Linked DNA regions of Homo sapiens: regions 1 and 3 are each reported to be linked to region 2. The links are microRNA targets in miRTarBase. Many come from high-throughput screens and were not tested one by one. Region 2 holds a microRNA gene; each other region holds the end of a gene's coding sequence.
Evidence for each region. Region 2 holds the annotated microRNA hsa-miR-4433b-5p (AUGUCCCACCCCCACUCCUGU, at 5,455-5,475, shown strand). A microRNA usually pairs through its seed, bases 2 to 8, with sites in the 3' UTR of a target mRNA and lowers its output. Matches are read on the target gene's strand: a 7mer-m8 pairs with bases 2 to 8, a 7mer-A1 pairs with bases 2 to 7 and ends in A, and an 8mer does both.

Region 1: the mRNA of GPATCH8 is a reported target of hsa-miR-4433b-5p. Seed matches in the 3' UTR shown: 8mer at 6,117-6,124 and 7mer-m8 at 5,746-5,752.
Region 3: the mRNA of AFMID is a reported target of hsa-miR-4433b-5p. Seed matches in the 3' UTR shown: 7mer-m8 at 3,873-3,879.

Annotation. Positions count from the first base shown.
Region 1 is chr17:44,390,342-44,397,896 of GRCh38, forward strand. GPATCH8 (G-patch domain containing 8) reads right to left here. Exons shown (of 8, transcript NM_001002909.4): 8 at 4,940-7,555. The coding sequence ends at 7,227. Among named protein-coding and RNA genes, the nearest start is that of ITGA2B, 4.5 kb to the left of the region's middle. RefSeq lists an enhancer at 7,139-7,555.
Region 2 is chr2:64,338,238-64,346,283 of GRCh38, reverse strand. It overlaps MIR4433B (microRNA 4433b), which reads left to right and starts at 5,436; the gene lies at 5,436-5,537. It overlaps MIR4433A (microRNA 4433a), which reads right to left and starts at 5,525; the gene lies at 5,445-5,525. LOC105374768 (a long non-coding RNA gene) reads left to right here and starts at 4,575. Exons shown (of 3, transcript NR_189739.1): 1 at 4,575-4,749; 2 at 7,927-8,046.
Region 3 is chr17:78,205,971-78,210,970 of GRCh38, reverse strand. AFMID (arylformamidase) reads right to left here. Exons shown (of 11, transcript NM_001010982.5): 10 at 4,921-5,000; 11 at 3,269-4,060. The coding sequence ends at 4,034. Among named protein-coding and RNA genes, the nearest start is that of BIRC5, 5.8 kb to the left of the region's middle.

The DNA.
Region 1 (7,555 bases), not on the chromosome of region 2:
GACTCCTCAGGCTGGCCGCGTGGGCTAACACACGTAGGCACAGCATTGAGCACACTGTTTACTCTTGGTCCGTTCACAGGATTGTGTAAATGAGTCCCTTGGGAGCAAGGCTCCTTGCTACAGCCCTAGAGACTACCCAAGAGTCCAATGTGTAGTACGTGTATTGCTGAAAGACTGGATGGAAACACACACTAAGGATGGAAGATGCAAACATAGGGTGACAAAGTGAAGGGATGAGTTTTGAGCAGAAAGGCAAAGTCATTTTCTCTCGGTAAGCGGAAGAGGAGGAGTGCCAAGTCTTACTGGCACTCATGCCTTCCCAAAAAAGCAGGTTCTCAGGAAGATTTAAGAGGTCCGCTAGGGGTAACCATAGCCACATTTTCCTTTTGATTTCTATTTTCTGATCAAACTTAACCATTGCCGTATCCTGCTCAACCACCCTGTACCATTTTGAAGTCCCCTCGTAATTTACTACCTCAGCCTAGAGTTAAGAATCTTATCCTTTATAGGACAGGAAGCTAAAAGCCTGAACTTTGGTCTGGGCCTTCTTCATTGCTGAGTTCCCAGTGTCAAGTACATGGGAGGCGTGTAATTAATGTATTTGCTTGAACGAATACTTAACCCAGTCCTCTACTTACCTTCTATCCTCCCACTGTCCTCAGGTGAGTGATTGCTGTATTACTGGTGTATTCTGTGAGGCCAAATATGAACTTACATTTCACTCAAGTTTTCAATAAGTATTTACTCTGTTCAAGGCACTGTGTTGATAAAGGATACAAAGATAACCATTAGGCCAGGTATAGTGGCTCATGCCTGTAATCCCAGCACTTTGGGAGGCTGAGGCAGGAGGATGGCTTGAGCTCAGGCATTTAAGACCAGCCTAGGCAATACAGTGAGACCTCGTCTCTATTTTAAAATTATAAAAAATAAAATATTTTAAAAACTCCAAAGATAGCCATCAAGGAGACTTAACAAACAGCCCAGAAAGAGTTAAGACATGAACACACATAACTGCAGCAGAGAGACAGTCAAGCATGCCTTGAAAAATACACAGATTATCAAAGTCGTATATCATTGTTACTCATAACAACCCTAGGAAATAAGTACTATTATGCCCATTTTATAAACACAAAACTGTGGCACAAGAGTTTTAGGTAAATTGCCCATGTTTACGCAGCCAACAGATGGCAAAACTAAGATTCAAACATGGGTTGCACTTGAACTCATGTTCAAGTTGCCTTTTGTCAGAGAATGAAAGGGTTTTTAGGCATAGAGAATACATGAGAGCAGCAAAGGAACACAGAGGTAGGGAAGGACAAGTAGTTGACTCAGCATAGCAGAATGCTTAAAGGGTTGGACTGAGGCGCAAGGGGGTAAAGCTTGGGGATTCAAATTACTGGAGGTCCTTGAATGCCATATTAAGGAATCTGAACTTTAATCCATGGGGGATGGAAAATCATAAAGATTTTAGCCGGGCATGGTGGCTCATGCCTGTAATCCCAGCACTTTGGGAGGCCCAGGCGAGTGGACCACAAGGTCAGGAGTTTGAGACCAGCCTGGCCAACCTAGTGAAACCCCGTCTCTACTAAAAATACAAAAATTAGCTGGGCGTGGTGGTGTGTGTCTGTAATCCCAGCTACTTGGGAGGCTGAGGCAAAAGAATTGCTTGAACCTGTGAGGCGGAGGTGGCAGTGAGCTAAGATCATGCCACTGCACTCCAGCCTGGGCGACAGAGTGAGACTCCATCAAAAAAGAAAAAAAGAAAGAAAGAAAAGAAAAATAAAATTATAAAGATTTTTTACACCAGGTTTGGTGGCTCATGCCTGTAACCCTAGCACTTTGGGAGGCCAAGATGAGGATTGCTTGAAGCCAGGTGTTTGGGACCAGCCTGGGCAACATAGTGAGACCCTGTCTCTACAAAAAAATTAAAATTAGCCAGGCACGGTAGTGCACACCTGTAGTTCCAGCTACTGAGGAGGCCGAGGCAGGAGAATCACTTGAGCCCACGAGTTTTAGGTTACAGTGCACTACGATTTTGCCACTCCACTCCAGCCTGGGCAAGAGTAAGACTATGCCTAAAAAACAATTTTTTTTTTTTTTTTTTTTTTTTTTGCTGGGCATGGTGGCTCACACCTGTAATCTCCCAACACTTTGGGAGGCCAAGGTGGGCGGATCGCTTGAGGCCAGGAGTTTGAGATCAGCCTGGCCAACATGGCAAAACCCTGTCTCTACTAAAAATACAAAAATTAGCCGGGTGTGGTGGTGCACACCTATAATCTCAGCTGCTTGGGAGGCTGAGGAAGAATTGCTTGAACCTGGGAGACGGAGGTTGCGGTCAGCCGAGATCGTGCCATCACACTCCAGCCTGGGCAACAAGAGCAAAATTCCATCTCAAAAAACCCAAAAAACCAAAAACCAAAAAACACATTTTTGAATTTTTTTTGGCTCAATTCTGATGCACAATCCTCAGTTAATGATATTTTACTTGGCTCATATTCTTTTTATTTTTGAGACAGGATCTTGCTCTGTCACCCAGGCTGTAGTACAGTGACCTGAACATGGCTCACTACAGACTTGACCCCTGGGCTCAAGCAGTCCTCCCACATCAGCTTCATGAATAGCTGGGACCACAGGCTTGTGCCACCATGCCCAGCTAATTTTTAAATTGTTTTGTAGAGATGGGGTCTTGCTATGTTACCCAGGTTGGCCTCGAATTTCTGAGCTCAAGAGATCCTCCTGCCTTGGCCTCCCAAAGTACTGGGATTATAGGCATGAGACACTGTGCCTGGCCACTTTGCTCATATTCTTGAACATATAATCAAAATGTTTACTATGTATTCAGTGTGAGATACGTTGGGGGCTGCGGTGGGGGGATATAAGAATCACTCCCTGTTCTCTCAGAGATTACAATTTTACTGGGAAGCAATGAATACAAAATGAGCTGCATTCAGATTCTGAAAAGCCAGTAAGCTTACACAGAACAGGAAATTAGGTTCTAGTCAGGAAGGCCACCCAGGAAAATGCTGCAAAAATTGAGATATGAGTTGGTAGAAGTGAGTGAAGCTGTCTTTGGCAAATAAGAATGGAAATGGCTGACGAGGCCTGAATTAGTCATCAAGGGTTTGAAGAGGGAGTACTTTCATGTTTCAGGCCAAGGTGGCTGAGGCCTTATCAGAACAAGGCAATTAACTGCACGTATCTTCACATAACACTCTATACAGTCCAGTCTGCCTCTTTGACTTGTCACCTCCCCTGCTCTCAGAAAATCACTTTTTTTTTGTTTTTGAGATGGCGTCTCACTCTGTCACCCAGGCTGGAATGCAGTGGCATGATCTTGGCTCACTGGAACCTCTGCCTCCCGGGTTCAAGTGATTCTCCTGTCTCAGCCTCTTGAATAGCTGGGATTATAGGCGCACGCCATCATGCCTGGCTAATTTTTGTATTTTTAGTAAAGACGGGGCTTCACCATGTTAGTCAGGCTGGTCTCGATCTCTCCTGACCTCGTGATTCGCCTACCTCGGCCTCAGTGCTGGGATTACAGGCTTGAGCCACCGTGCCCCGCCCATTTTTTTTTTTTTTTTTTTTTTTTTGAGACGGAGTCTCACTCTATCACTCAGGCTGGAGTGCAGTGGCATGATCTTGGCTCACTGCAACCTCCACTTCCCACGTTCAAGCGATTCTCCTACCTCAGCCTCTTGAGTAGCTGCAATTACAGGCATGCACCACCATGCCTGGCCAATTTTTTTTTTTTTTTTAAATTTTTAGTAGAGATGGGGTTTCACCATGTTGGCCAGGCTGATCTCAAACTCCTGACCTCAAGTGATCCACCTGCCTTGGCCTTCCAAAGTGCTGGGATTAGACATGAGCCACCACACCTGGCCTCACTTTTCATTTTCTAACGTGTGTGTGTGTGTGTGTGTGTGAGACAGACAGGGTCTCACGCTGTTGCCCAGGCTAGAGTGCAGTGGTGTGATCTTGGCTCACGGCAACCTCCCGGTTCAAGCGATTCTCCTGCCTCAGCCTCTCGAGTAACTGGGATTACAGGCGTGTGCCACTACGCCCGGCTAATTTTTGTAGGTCTAATGTCATTTCTTTCTGGGTAAGGATCTTTGCTATTTTAGGAATATAGGCAGATCTGAGTACTCAACCCCAGGTTCAAGTTGAACAGCTCCTCTTTAATCAAAGGGAGAACACAGATGTATCAAACAGAGTAGGAAAGAAATGTATCAAAAGACAGTAGGAAAGAAAGCCTTTCCTTCTTGAAAGGCTGAGGTTGAGAGGGAAAGCTAATTTATCACTACAACTCTATGGTAGCTTTCCATGCTAAATTTTCCCTGCCTCTTTTGTGATTTTTTGATATGGAAGAGTAGGGGTTATATCTTCTCTGTAACAATTAGGCCATATTTCCTTATACCAAGTAGAGGTGCTCAAACACTGTAGTGGTATTAAAGGGCTGAGGAGAGTAACTGAAGACTGGCATACAGAACTCCACCTGGAGGACAAAAGTCCGGCAGATGATTCTTGTCATCTCAGTGCCCTTAAAGTAGTCCAAAATCCTAAAATTCAAAGCCAGAAATTCCACACCCATTTAGTAAGCACCTATATATACACCATATATTCTACTACACACAGATTATATATCTAAAATGGAAGGAAATCTTTCCTCTTGTGGGAAAGAGGAAGTGGAAAGGAGGTGTACATCCCAATACATCTACCTACAACTGAGAGAAATTAACTACTATTACCACCTCCCACACCATCATCTTTCCTCTCTCTTTGCGTAGCCTGAGCTTTCAGAAGCACAACTGCAAACATCTCTAACTGGTTCACAGGAATCTATTCCTTGGTCATGTCAAACAAGATGTTATTTATAACCCACACCTCCAACCCTACCTAACTTTGAGTGGATGGGGCAACAATTACGACAGACTCTGCTAAGTTTCCACAAATCATTGGTTTATTAGAAAGTTCCTTTCCCTCATTTTACAGCATATATATCTCTATCATATGTGATAAAGTTAAATACAATCTGTTATGCTTGTAAGTAAGGTTTATTTTTATTTTTACTTTTAAAATCACTATTCTGGAAGTTAAAGAAAATGCCCCTAGGAAGGCAAAGAGGCAGCCAGAGTATGGCTCAATCTACAAGCTAATGGGAAGCAGCACGAAAATGTTAATACTGTATTATTTATTTACATGGGCTGAAAGCAAAGAAAAATGAGTCCCTTCACTTACACAGATGATTTCATTTTTCCAGTGCTAGTTATCCAAGAAGTGATGCTTCTGAATCAGATGAGTACTGAACAGGTAGGAGGGTGGGAGGGCAGTCAAGAGTTGTGTTTGCCTGCCACTTTCTTTTCATAAACTTTACTCTTTTGAGAATTTGCGAAGGCAGGAACAGAGCCTTGGCCCAGGTAAGTATGGTTTTTCTTGTCAAGTGACCAACCAACCAATTCTAGCCACACGAATAGTTAGGAAAATGCCAAAGTGGGAATTGTTAACCTCATCAAAGGAGATGGGACCTGCAACACAAGCACCTTTGGGTCAGTGTGTTAATTAGGGCTGAGAGCCTGGGTGAAAGGCAAGAAGAGGGGCAAAAGAGGCTGAGGTGGTAATTCCTCTTGTCAGTGTCATGGGAGAAAAGAAACAAGGAACGTTTACTGTCTAAACTGAGCTGGGCAGAGGGCATGGAAACTATGAAGCAAAATATCTGTAAATGTGCTCACCTCCCAACAAAAGGAAGACTGTCCCAACTCATCCTCCAGCCTACTTCTACTTCCGTTTCTACCAACCCAAAAGGCACATTAAAAAAAAAATTGTCAGAGGGGGCTAAGTACTAGGAAGGCAAATGGACTGACTGCCTGGAACAAGGTACCCAGGGAAACCCAGGAATCCCCCCAGACAATCACCAAATCTCACTGCTTCCAGACAATAAAGCTGTTGAATCCCCTCCTTCTCCTCTGTGGGGTCTACCTGTTTCTCTGTGTAAAACAGCAAAAGTACATGAGGGAGACTGTTAAAGATGAGCATCCCTCAGAAGCCCCCAGCTGACTGCTGCCCATTAGCTCAAAAATCCCAATACTGGGGGCACTACATACTGCAAATTACTTAACATTTTGTCCCAGCAAAAAATGTTTTAACATTTTATAGTTCATAACTTCAAAAAATACATAAGTTTGGTAAAATATACATGCTTAGTCAGTTTTGCATCTAGCAGAAAACAAATATTTTATTTTTTGTTTTCATTTTATAACCTTTAGAGTTTCTTAATTCAACTAGGGCAAACATATTTACACAAAGCCACCAGAACGAGGATCACTTAAAGAGCTGGATGTAAAAAATATTATTGCAGTATACTACAAATATGGAACCTTTTTTATATGAGCTACAAAAAGCAGCATTTACGTTTATAGAGTTCAGTGCAATTTTTTACATTAAAAAAATCCTATAAATTAAGAAGGAAACATCAACACAACAGAAGAAAATATACCCTTCACTTTAGACACATGAGCTCCTCTCTGGGCCATACAGCTTTTATTCATGATAGGATCTTCTTTTCTGGGATATGGAGATGCCTCTTCTGGGATGAGGGATACCAAGATAACAGTGCCAAATGTGTGGCTCCGTTGATGTGGGAACTGGATGGAATTGCAGCCTGAGTTATATCAGGTTCCAGGTGAGACGCTTTCCACCTCACCTGGGATAACGTAACGTCACCAAAGATGGTCAAAGATACTACCCCAAAATGGTGGCACTTCCACCACTAGAACAGCTTGGCCTTCCCTGTGGCGCTGAGAAGGCAAGACCAGATGGGCCCACAGCAAGTGCTCTGGTGACAACCCACTGGCCAGAGGGGAGGAAAATGTTTTAAAATTTACAGAAGGGAAGAGCAGAGGAAAAAAGCAGAGGGAGGAGGGGATTATCTAAACTTGACAGTTTGGAGATGTTGCTGCAGAGGGGTGGGTAGCACTTACTGGTGTTCCCTAGCTTAGAAACACAGAAGAGGGAGGGACAAATTGAGAGGAGGACAGGAAAAAGAAATCCCTGATAGTAAACTGAAAGCAAACTTCAAATCTAAACCCACCCCTGCAAGCCAAAACTCAATTCTTTGGCTGTCAGACACTGCCCATCCCAGCTTCTACTTGCTGGTATTAATGGCTCAACACCCCCAAGGGAACATTTATGGGTCTCCTCCCCTGGCCCTACCTAGGATCCCATCCCCCAACTCACGTGCCATGGCTGGGGGGATGTTGCAGGTCCTGACCTGAGAAGATGGGGTGAAGTAGTGGGTGAAGGTGAAGTGCAGTGGCAGCTGCTGCAGCAGGCCGTGGAGCAAGTAGGGTGGGGTAGAGGGCAGCATGTGGGACAGGGTGAAAGGTGAAGGGCCCAGGATGGATGGCTGAGGCGGGAATGATGTGGATGGGATGGCTAGCGAGAAAGGTGGCAGGGTGGCCAGGGATGATTGAGTGAGTGAGGTGGGACAAAGAAATGGGGGTCAGATGGGGCTGGGGAATATGATGCACCTGGGCAAGTGGTTGGGGATGGGGGTGAGGGT
Region 2 (8,046 bases):
CTGTACTTCTCAGGTATTTGAAGATTGGAAATATGAACAAATGTAGATTTTAGGCATGAGTCATTGTCCAATGCACACATTTGAAAAAACACACAAAAAACCATGACTTGACTAAAACGCTGAATGACAGCAGGTGGTAGAGTTGTTGGATGATGCGTCTGCACATTGTAGGCCCTCCATGAAAGTCTCCTGAATGAATGAATGCATTTGTCTGATGTAGAGCCAACTACAGCTTAGCTCCACCTTGATTTTCCTTACAAGTTTACCTCATCACTCTACCAGAATCAGAGAAGTGATAAGGAAATGTCTCACATCCATTCTAGCCTGAGACTCTTCCTCTTCCAGAAAGCATGCCTGGGTCAGTATCACTAAAGGACACTGTCATTCCATATGTTCCCCAGTTGGAATGAGTAGCCTCAATTGTGCTAATTTGAACATGGCTCCAATATCGCTTTGAGAATGTTTCTATATTCGTGTACCATCAAGCTTGTAGATGTCACTGAGACAAGGGTTGTCTTATATCATTAAGTATGTACAGATTCACGTTATATGTTCAGTCCTACACTGTGTCTGTGACAGACACATATGCAGTCTGCCCAATAGAAACTCATCATCCTGTTAAGAAGAAACTTCGTTCACATCTGAAATTACTAGTGAGTTAGGTAATGTACAATATACACTGTATCAATCAGGATTCCAGTCAGGCAAACAGGAATCATGGCAGATGTTTTAAATAGAGTGTTTCATACAGGAAATTAGTTACAAAAGTGTTAAAAGGGCTGAAAGAACAAAAATGTAAGGTAACCAGAGAATAATAATGACAGGAAAATGGTCGTTGGGGAAGGTGGTGTTAGAGTCCAAGTGTACATGCTGTTGCTTTGTTTGAGGTGCTGTTACAACTGCTGACAGTGCAGGAACCACTGAAGAGGGACCACCCAGGCTAGAGCTGTGACCACTGAGCAGAGGCTGCTTTGGCTGAAGCTGGGGTCATCAAGGGGTTTCAGAAATTTTCAGAGGTGCCCCAAAGCAGGGATGGGGAGAGAGAACAGTGGCTTCTCTTCCTTTTCCATTTCTCTGCCAGAGCCTCTTACTGGAAGCCAGCTGGCAAGGGAACCTGGGAAATGTAGTTTTCAACCTTACAGCCCAGAGTCAGAGGCATGAGTGTGGGGCTGACAGACAACAGGCTAATAAACAACCCAGATTTTAAATGTTGTGATACAGGTGATTGAACAAGACAATGTATAATAAGGGAGTGAGCTTAAAATACAGTTGGTATAAACAAAGTTTTAGAAGAGAGACTACAAGGTACACTGGAGACAGCAAGAAGCTTCCACAACTCTATCAGTGGGAATGTTCTGGATATGAGTGAAGAAACCAACCTCAAACATGCTACGGCTGCAAAAGAGGACTTTATTGGGTTGCATGATTGTGGAATACAGGGTATTCACTGGCTTCAGGGATGGTGGGATCCAGGTCTTGAATGATGTTGCTAGGTTCTGTCTCCTCAGTTTATTGGCTTTGCATGTCTCGACTTTATGCTTCAGACAGACGAGATGGTTATCCACAGACTCCCATCTTCCTAGCAGGTTGACCTCACTAGGAAAAGTCGTTTCATTACATCTGGCAGGTCCCATCCCTGACCCAATCTCAGCTGCCAAGAGGAATGCCACTGTGCCTTACTCCACCAAATGGAATAGAGCAGGAAAAATCCCTCAGCAGGAACAGTGGGCAGCTGTTAACATGCAAAGGAAGATGGGCAAATGAGTGAGCAAGAAAAAGGTATGGCCACCGTAGTCCTCCATATGCACCACAACAGGACATAGGCTGTGCCCTCTAGAAACTGCTATTTTGTCTGAAACCTGAAGAAGATTTAGGGTCATTCTTTTTATTCTGTTTTAAATGGGGTCTCCCTCTGTCACCCAGGCTGGAGTGCAATGGCATGATCTTGGCTTACTGCAACCTTTGCCTCCCGAGTTCAAGCAAATCTCCTGCCTCAGCCTCCTGAGTAGCTAGGACTACAGGTGCCTACCACCACACCTGGCTAATTTTTTTATTTTTTATTTTTTTAAGTAGAGGTGGGGGTTTCACCATGTTGGCCAGGCTGGTCTCAAACTCCTGACCTCAAATGATCCACCCACCTTGGCCTCCCAAAGTGCTGGGATTACAGGCATGAGCCACCATGCCCAGCTGGATCATTTTTAAACCACAAATAAGCCAGTGTAAATTGATTTCCTCTGCGCTGTAATGCTCATGAAATATGAAGAGTCTTGGTCCAGGGCATCTCCCCATAGTACCTGGGGTGTTCTGAGCACACAGGGCACTCTCCACACATAAGGTGGTGCCAACAGCTGCCGGACACAGGAGAGGCAGCCCAGGCTACTGCAGTCACATGGTAATGTCACGTGCCATAAACACATAAGAAAGCCAGGGGATGCTCCCAGGAAGTTGCAGGGTATCAGCCAGAGTCCCAGAAGGAAGATGGCATTCCCAAAGGGTTTAGCTGAAGGGATTTTAATGAGGGGATGATTTATAGAGAGGTGGGCAGATTTCACAGAACCACAAAAGATGGTGAGATACCCAGGAACCTCACCATCCTGGGACTGTGTATTCATAGGTTTGTCACCAAATTTTTGCTAAAACTCAAGGTGCATATTATTGGGGTGCTATTTGGCATAGAAAACATTTGTCCAGGAAATTTTCTAATATCATGTCAAGTTAAACATAATTCATTGCAAATAAGAGGTACAAGGCATAGTATAATAGCAAGCTAGCACAAACAAAATTTGTAGACTTGCTAAAACATGGGAGAACAGCGTAGGCCAGAATAACAGTGATTAAGAGTTCAGGCTCTGGTGCTGGAGTCCCTGGGTTCAAATCCTTACTAGCTATGGGATCATAAGTGAATTTACTCATGTGTAAAATAGAGGTAATATTACTTATCCCATAAATTGTTATGAGGATTAAAGGATTAAATGCAATATTTGTAAGATGCTTAGAACTTTACTGGCACATAAATACTAGCATTATCTACAAAATTATACTACCCTTCCTCCGTTCACTCAATAAATATATAGTCAGGAGCCACATAACAATGTTTCAGTGAATGAGGGACCACATATACAATGGTGATTTCTTAAGATTATAGTATCATATTTTTATGTATCTTTTCTATGTTTAGATGTGCTTAGATACACAAATACTACTATGTTACAATTGCCCACATTATTCAGTACAGTAACGTACTATAGGTGTTTGTAGCCTAGGAACCATAGGCTAGACCAGATAGTCTAGGTGTGTAGCAGGCTACACCATTTAGGTTTGTGTAAGTATACTCTGATGCTCTCATTACGAAACTGCCTAACAATGCATTCTTTAGTAGGTATCCCCGTTGTTAAGTCACACATGACTGTGTATTAAATATTTACTATAGGCATCATCCTAGGCTCTGGGGAAAGTGGTAAGAAAAAAAAGACTACCTTTCCTGATGGACTGGGAAGAAAACATTAACTAATAATCACACACAGAAATAAAATCAAAACCATGAGTGGTGGTGCTTGGAGCCATAAGAGCTGGTAATGACTATACAGGGGTAGGCCTTCTTGAGGAAGTGACATTTACCTATGACCTAGATGAGTTTACTAGGGAAAGTTCATTAGGTAAAGATGAGAGGGGGAAAAATACCAGGCAGAGGAAGCACTATGTCCTCTGTGGCAGAAAGGATCATGGCAGGCATATTAGTCAGGACCCAGCCAGGAAAGCAAAACCCACTCTAGGTGATTTGATAGAGGGAATTTCATACGGGGAGTCAGAGGAGTTGAAAGAGCTCCCAGGGGAACCCTGAGAGTAGCAACTCCAGGAAGCTGGGACTACTGTATTTGTTTGCTAGGGCTGCAGTAACAAAGTGCCACAGACTGGGTGGCTTCACACAGAAAGTTATTGTCTCAGAGTTCTGAAGGCTGGAAGTCCAAAATCAAGGTGTCAGAAGGGGTAGTTCCTTTTGAGGCCTATGAGGGAAGGATCTGTTCCACGCCTCTTTCCTTGACTTGTAGATGACCATTTTCACCTATGTCTCTTCACATCGTCTTCCCTCTGTGTGTGTCTATCTCTGTCCAAACTTCCCCTTTTTATAAGGACAACATTCATATTGGATTAGGGTCCACCCTAATGACCTCACTTTAATTCGGCTACTCTATAAAGACCACAACCCTAAATAAGGTCACACTCTAAAGTACTGGGGGTTAGAACTTCAACACATGAACTTGCAGGGGAGACACAATTCAACCCATAGCACCACCCTGGAAGCTGGAGAACAAGGAAAGAAACAGTTTCTGGAGCCTAAGACAAGATAAGCTGGAACAAAGAGGGCCTGCCAAGATGGGTAGCAGGGATCACACAGAGATGGCTGTGTAGTGGGAACTGCAGCCACAGAAGAGACTCCTGAGAAAGAGAAGCAGGAGAAGTACTCTGGCTTCTCCTTCCTTCACCTCCAATATCTTTTGCCCTCCCTCACTCCCCATTGGCTGAACTTTACTGGAAGGCAGTTGGCTCTGGAGCCTGGAACAGCCCCCAGTGACACAGAGCAGATCGGGGGACCACGGGATGGGAAGGGTGGACATGGCTCTGACAGCAACAATGTAACACCCATGCAACGAGTCTGCGAGGCCGAATGGAAGCCAGCTGGCTGCAGGGGAGAGAGCAAGAGAGTCTGGCAGAAGGTGCACCTGGAGAAGGAAGTAGAGGCCAGGCCAGGTAGGAGTTTGGTCTGCATGCTAAGAGCCATAGAAATATCCAAAGGTTTTTAATAGAGCTGGGGGAGAGGCGGTGATGTGATCAGAGATGTGTTTTGAAAAGACCTATCTGGCTATGAAGTGGAGAGTGGGTTGAGGATAGTGGGGCAGATCAGTTAGAAGGCTACGCCTAAGAGAAAGCCTGTTTTACAAAAAGAGGGAGCTCCTGCTGCCCCTCTCTTTCCCTGGAGTTTTCATACCCTCCACGTGTACTAGACATGTGTATCTGCCAGTCAAAGCCACCCCTCCCCTGGTGCAGAGGCCCGCTCCAAGCTCTCATTGCCCAGTGTCCTTTTTCTAGATCCTCTCCTGGTTCACTTCCTTTCTCTCTGGGCAGTCCTTCCCATGCTGCAACACTGATTCTTCTTTTGTCACCCACCTGCTGCAAGGGGGGCCCTTGTCACCCATCTCACCCATCACTCTGGCTTAATGGTGCTGACTGAGTCCACGGCTTTGGTGGCCACCCATATGTTGCTGCTGCTTCTCAGATCTGTATTTCCAGACATGATTTCTCTCGTGAGAAAAATCAGCCTGCCAGATATCTCCACTGGAATGTCCAAAGGAATTGGAATCATGAGCTCAGCATGTCTAAAACTGAACACATTATCTTCCCCTCGCACGTGGACCCCTGTAACCTGCCCTTCATCCTGTGTTCCCTATCCTCCTTATGTCCCACCCCCACTCCTGTTTGAATATTTCACCAGAAACAGGAGTGGGGGGTGGGACGTAAGGAGGATGGGGGAAAGAACATCATCCTAAACTATTCCCTCTTACTCCCCCACATCCCATTGCTGTCCAAGTCCTGTTGGCTCTGTCCTAGATATCTGTCAAAATCCACTTTTCCTGCTACTTCCCTAGCCCAGGTCCTCATTTTTATGTGGGTTCATGCAGTGGTCTCCTAGCTGGCTTCCTGCCTCAAGCCTTGCCCTGGCCGGTCCACTTTTCCTACAATCAAAGTGACATCTACCAGTGTAAATAGATCATGTCCTTTCTCTGCTTAAAATCCCTTCAGTGATTTCTTATCGTCCTCAAGTCAAGTCTGATTACTATCTCTGCACAGTGCCCAGCCCACAATAAATGATTGGTGATTAAATGAATAAATGACAAACCAATATAGAAAAATTGCTAAGTGTGGAAATGAAGAAAAGATGCCATTTTTTTTCCCCTGGAAGTCTTTCCGACTGTCCAAGACTCAATCTGGATCTATCCTTGGGTGTGTTTGTATTGTACTTCTCACACTATACTAAACCCATCTACTTACCTGTCTGTTTCCTACTGGAATGTTCCTTGGTTGCTACTATATCTCTTAGCACAGCTCCTGGAAGAAAGTAAATGCTCAAAAAATATTTGATGAATGAATGAATGATAAGGAGAGCTCTGGGCTGGGGCTGACTATGAAATGCTTATTAGGAGCAGAGTGTGTCTGTCCTGGTTCCAAAGCACTGGGGGAACCAGGATGGGTAGAGAGGCTGAAGGCAAGCCCTTTAGGGGAAGGATAGCAGTGACGAAGGCTGAAAGATCAACAGCAATACATTTTTCTCAGGAGACTTCTTTGGGGCAGTGTTTTCTAAGCTGGGTTCCAGGGACCACTGGTCTTGCGAGATGCTCTATCTAGGGTTCTATATCAAATCAGCATGTAGAAACATGCAGCCCATACCCCTTGTGTACATCAGCATCTCAAAGAGTCTGAGAAGTCCTGCAGTTGAAAAACCAACACTTTAACCCTTTTAACTCAGTATTTCCTGAACTTATTCCATAAGTTTGAATATACAAAAATAAAGTTTTTTGCTTAATACTCAGCAACACCCCCTTCCACAAGATATACTGGAATAAATAGTGTTTGGTGGTCATGAGTATTTTAGGAAAAGGGCAGGAGAAGCTTGAATTTCCCCCAGTGTGCCTTGGGTGAGCACTGTGGTTATAGCCACTTGATGAGAACAGTCAGAGGAAGGCTGCTCTGGGCCATCAAGTGCAGACTGTATAGGACAGGAGAAGGGTGGGAACAGAGACACCCCTGAAGGGGTTGTAGATTCAGGGGGAAAGGTGATGGATGGCCTGGACAAAGATTGTGGTGGAAACAAAATCAATGGGCACACGATTTTCCCTTCTTGGAAGAACCTCTGAAAGGAGAAGCCCTATTCACCCCGACTGCCTGGCTTAGGCCACACCCCTAGAAATGCAGCTACAACCAGGGCAAACCATCAACAGCATCTTCTCAGCACCCATGCGATCCCAAGTAGGCATCCGAGGACATGCAAAAGAGAAGCATGTGTCCTTTTGTGGTCAAAGTCTGTTTTCTCTCTTGGAGCAGGTATGCTTCTGATGGTGCTGCAAGCAGCAGGGGGTAAGGCTGCAAGCTGGGCTAAAAACAGCCCCACCCCCTCTAGCCACAATCAGCTGTGGGATAAAAGCCCCTAAAGACCAAGACTGTACTCATGTCTGACTCATCTCTGCTTCCAGCTCTCAGCTAAACCTGCCCAGAGGAGAGCATGGCAGACAGGAGGGCGCTTGCTCAGAAGCCTCTAGGTTAGAGGTAAACAGGACTAAGGTTAATAAAGAAATTCATAATGAGGGTATAGCAACTGTACCCCCACCCCATCACCAGATGATGACCTGGTCTGAGAGAGGAAACATGCAGGTGGGTCACATAACTCAATGTAAAGCAGGTAGCGCACCATGCCTGCATTTAAGGGCTCAGCAGGTGTTACTTATTACTATTATTTACTCCTATGCAAGTAACTGAAAAAAAATTACTTCATTTAAGATCTTTAGCAAATACTTTTGGTGTTAACTCTTTCAGGGACACTTCTTTTTTAAAAATTTATTTTTTAATATAAATGGGACAGGGTCTAGCTATGTTGCCTAGGCTGGTCTCGAACTCCTAGGCTCAAGGGGTCCTCCACCCTCAGCCTCCCAAAGTGCTGGGATTACAGGCACGAGCCACTGCATCTGGCCTGAGGGACACTGCTAACGCAGTACCTGGTGCTTTTCTGGCCCCTAAGCCCATGGGCTTAGGAAAAAATTAAGTCAGTGCCAAAGAGGACCCCAAACCCCACCATTGTTTCACAGACAGTGTTCAGTATGGCCTGTACCTCAGGGTAATCACTTCATTTTGCTCTTTTCTCTCCAATGCTCTCAGTGTGGAGGGAACTGGGAGGACCTGTCTGACCACAAACAACCCACCTGAGGAGGCCCTGCTGCTCCCGGAGGGTGCTCCTGCCAGAGTTCTCCTAGTTCCTTGCAAGGAGCCCTGGAAAAA
Region 3 (5,000 bases), not on the chromosome of region 2:
GAGGCAGGAGAATCGCTTGAACCCTGGAGGTGGAGGTTGCAGTGAGCCAAGATTGCGCCACTGCACTCCAGCCTGGGCAACAAGAGTGAAACTCTGTCTCGGAAAAAAAAAAAAGAAAGAAAAAAGAGCCAGGCGCGGTGGCTCACGCCTGTAATCCCAGCACTTTGGGAGGCCGAGGCGGGCGGATCACAAGGTCAGGAGATCGAGACCGTCCTGGCTAACACGGTGAAACCCCATCTCTACTAAAAAATACAAAAAAATAGCCGGGTGTGGTGGCAGGCGCCTGTAGTCCCAGCTGCTCGGGAGGTTGAGGCAGGAGAATGGCGTGATCCCGGGAGGCAGAGCTTGCAGTGAGCCGAGATCACGCCACTGCACTCCAGCCTGGGCGATAGAGCAAGACTCTGTCTCAAAAAAAAAAAAAAAAAAAGAAAGAAAGAAAAAGAAAAAAAGAAAAGGCAGAAAGGCAGAAGAGTCTTTTCCTCCCACAATAGTTGGGTTCCTTTTATGTTTGAGCCCCAGTGAACTGTATCCGTGGGGGTGTCAGCCCCGAGCCCGCTGCGCAGCCCCTGTCTCCTGGGTCCCCACCTCCTTTCTCCTTACCTTCAGCTCACCCCCTCCAACTCCTGCCACCTTTGGAGAGTGACCAAGCCTCTTCCCATCTGCAGTGCTTCCCGATGCTGGCAGGTGCTGTCCTGTCCACCCAGGCTCAAACAGGATGTCAGGCGAACAGATCTTTCCTCAAATGGCATTTCAGATTCACATTGCCCTCGTTTAAAAAAGTATTTTCCAGCCCGGGGCGGTGGCTCACGCCTGTAATCTCAGCACTTTGGGAGACCAAGGAGGGAGGATCACTTGAATCTAGGAGTTCAAGATCAGCCTGGGCAACACTGAGACCCCATCTCTATCAAAAATTTAAAAAATTAGCCAGGAAAGGCCATGCCCGGTGGCTCACGCCTGTAATCCCAGCAGTTTGGGAGGCTGAGGCAGGTGGATCACCTGAGGTCAGGAGTTTGAGACCAGCCTGACCAATATGGTGAAACCCTGTCTCTATTAAAAATACAAAAAATTATCCGGGCATGGTGGTGGGCACCTGTAATCCCAGCTACTCGGGAGGCTGAGGCACGAGAATCGCTTGAATCTAAGAGGCAGAGGTTGCAGTGAGCCGAGATCCTGCCATTGCACTCCAGCCAGAGCAACAAGAGTGAGACTCCGTCTAAAAAAAAAAAAAAAAATCAGTCGGGCGTGCACCTATACTTCCAGCTACTCGGGAGGCTGAGGTGGAAGGATCACTTGATCCTGGGAGGTCGAGGCTGCAGTGAGCCATGATTGGGCCACTGCACTCCAGCCTGGGAGAAAGAGTGAGATACAGTCTCAAAAAAAAAAAAGACTTTCTTTTTTTCTTTTTTTTTTTTTTGAGATGGAGTCTTGCTCTGTGGCCCAGGCTGGAGTGCAATGGCATGATCTCGGCTCACTGCAAACTCCAGCTCCTGGGTTCGAGTGATTCTCCTGCCTCAGCCTCCCAAGTAGCTGGGATTACAGGCCTGCACCACCACGCCCAGCTAATTTTTTGTATTTTTAATAGAGACGGGGTTTCACCATGTTGGCCAGGCTGGTCTTGAACTCCTGACCTCAGGTGATTCACCCACCTCAGCCTCTCAAAGTGCTGGGATTACAGGCATGAGCCACCGTGCCCTGCCAAAAAAAGGATATTTTGAGAGAAAGAGAGCAACCCCATAAGTTTGTTTTGTTTTGTTTTGTTTTGAGACAGAGTTTCACTCTTGTTGCCCAGGCTGGAGTGCAATGGTGTGATCTTAGCTCACTGCAACCTCCGCCTCCCAGGTTCAAGCGATTCTCCTGCCTCAGCCTCCCAAGTAGCTGGGATTACAGGCATGTGTCACCATGCCCGGCTAATTTTTTTTATCTTTAGTAGAGACGGGGTTTTGTCATGTTGGCCAGGCTGGTCTCCAACTCCTGACCTCAGGTGATCCACCTGTCTCAGCCTCCCAAAGTGCTGGGATTACAGGCATGAGCCACAGCACCTGGCTTCACATAACTTTGATCACAGTATATTGTTTTAATCGTTCTACTTTATTAGTTATTGTTAATCTCTTAGAAGGAATATTTATATACCCTTTGCCAATTTATAAATTAAACTTTATCGTAGGTATGTATATACAAGAAAAAACATAGTGTATATAGGGTTCAGTATTATCCATGGTTTCAGAGGGTCTTGGAGTGAATCCTACAGATAAGGGAGGCTACTGTGGCTCTTGGAGATATTCCACATGGTCAACATAGATCTCTTTGTAATGGCTGCAGGGTTTGATGCTGCTTGAATGCGTTTATTCCCTAATGAACACTAGGCTGTTTCTTGTTTTTTTTTTTTTTGCTATACTCAATAATGTCACGGTGGAAATTCTTTTTTACCCCCCCCCCCAACTTTTACTTTAAGTTCCAGGGTATATGTGTAGGATGTGCAGGTTTGTTACACAGGTAAATGTGTGTCATGATGGTTTGCTGCACACATACAGTGGAATTTTTTTTTTTTTCTTTGAGATGGAGTCTGGCTTTGTCACCCAGGCTGGAGTGCAGGGGCACAATCTCAGCTCACTGCAACCTCTGCCTCCCGGATTCAAGAGATTCTCCTAACTCAGCCTCCCACGTATCTAGGATTACAGGCGCCAGCCACCACGCCTGGCTAATTTTTGTATTTTTAGTAGAGACAGGGTTTTGCCATGTTGGCCAGGCTGGTCTTGAACTCCTGACCTCAGGTGATTCGCCCACCTCGGCCTCCTAAAGTGCTGGGATTACAGGCACTAGCCCCTGCGCCCAGCCCACAGTGGAAATTCTTGAATGCTATTCGGTGTGAGAGAAAGAGGCGGTGTGGTGGGGTGGGTGGTGGATGGATATAGCTGGCTTCTTGGGACATGCACACCACTCTCGGGTGCAGAGGAAGCTTGTCCTACATGTGGGTAGCATTGTCCTGTCAAGGTCAAGGTGTTGGCCCCAACGCTGAGACCCCGGGGCATTCAGGGACAGACCCAAATGTCAGGGAGATGGAGGACAGAGCAGACAGGAGACTGAAGCAGAAGGCAGAGGGTAGCTGGCTTGGGGAAGCCCTTACCCAGGGGTCCGCAAACTTTTCCTGAAAAGGGCCAGATAGGAAATGCTTCAGGCACTACGGGCCAGGAGGTCACTGTCACCACCACTCAGCTCCACCCTGCAGCTTGAAAGCTGCCCTAGACAATACGTAAATGAACGAGCAGGGCCGTGTTCCAATACAACTTTATTTATCAACATGGAAATTTACGTTTTATATAATTTTTACATGTTATGAAATAATATTCTTTTGTGCTTCTTTATGAACTATTTAAATATAATGCCATTCTGGCCGGGCGCAGTGGCTCACGCCTGGAATCCCAGCACTTTGGGAGGCCAAGGCGGGCGAATCACAAGGTTAGGAGTTTGAGACCAGCCTGGCCAATATGTTGAAACCCCGTCTCTACTAAAAATACAAAAATTAGCCAGGCATGATGGCAGGCGCCTGTAGTCCCAGCTGCTCAGGAGGCTGAGGCAGGAGAATTGCTTGAACCCGGGAGGTGGAGGTTGCAGTGAGCCAAGATCACGCCACTGCACTCCAGCCTGGGTGACAGAGTAAGACTCCATCTCAAAAAAAAAAAAAAAAAAAAAAAAAAAAGAAGTAATGGCATTACTTTTGAGCGTCATCTTTGTCATGCTCTGTCAGCAGGTAGATGGGCCAGACGAGTCTAAGAGGCAGCTCCGGGCATCTCTGAGCATTGACTTGCGGACGTTCCCCAGCCCTGGAGCTCCATCCAGGCTGGGAAGAGGGAGGACGTGGAGATTTTCATGAGTGTCCCAGCAGTGAGAATGGACTCTTGCCGGGCAGACAGACACAGCAAGGCTCTCCTGGGTGCTGGGGGAAACTGAAGCTGTCAGTGTCAGCTCCGAAAGCTCTTTGGAGAGGCTTCCCAAGGTGGGATGCACGTGGACCAGGCTCCAAGTATCGTCAGAACTACTGGAAGATTGTTTTCAAGATAATCTGGAACAGGAAGAGAAGACACAAAAGCCCCAGAATCAGAGCAGCTCTTTGCAGGAATTTGATTAAGGAAATGAGACAGGGCTGGATGCAGTGGCTCACGTCTGCAACCCCAACCCTTCGGGAGGCTGAGGTGGGAAGATCACTTGAACTCAGGAGTTGAAGACAGTCTGGTTAGAGGTATAATATGCTGAGATGAAGGAAGAAGAAGAAGAAGGGGGGGTAGGGGGAGGAGGAGAAGAAAGAAGATGAAGGAGGAAGGAGGAAGAAGAAGAAGGAAGACGACGACGACCAGCCTGGGGAACATAGAGAGACCCCATCTCTACAAAACATTGAATAATTAGCAGGGCACAGTGGCACGCCTTTGTAGTCCCAGCTACTCGAGAGGCTGGGGCAGGATAACCACTTGAGCCCAGGAGGCAGCAGAGAGCTAAGATTTTGCCACTATACTCCAGCCTGGGTGCAAGAGAGGAGACCCTGTCTCTAAAGAAAAAAAAAAAGAAAGAAACAAGATGGTCTTTCTTAGGTTCTTTCTTTCCTAGGTTCTCAGGTCTTTTTTTTTTTTTTTTTTTTTTGAGACAGAGTCTTACTCTGTCGCTCAGGCCGGAGTGCAGTGGTGCAATCTTGGCTCACTGCAATCTCTGCCTCCTGGGTTAAAGCAATTCTCATGCCTCAGCCTCCTGAGTAGCTGGGATTACAGGCACGTACCATCACATCTGGCTAATTTGTTTTGTATTTTTAGTAGACACGGAGTTTCTCCATGTTGGCCAGGCTGGTCTTGAACTCCTGGTTTGCACATCTAAGGGGCTGCGACAGGACCTGTGCTGTCTACCATGAAAGGGCTGCCAGGGATGAGGCCCCACCTGGGTGAGCACGTTGTCCTTCTGGGTCAGATTCTCAACAATTTCAAAGTGGTCCACATCGTGGAGCTCTTCAAATGAGG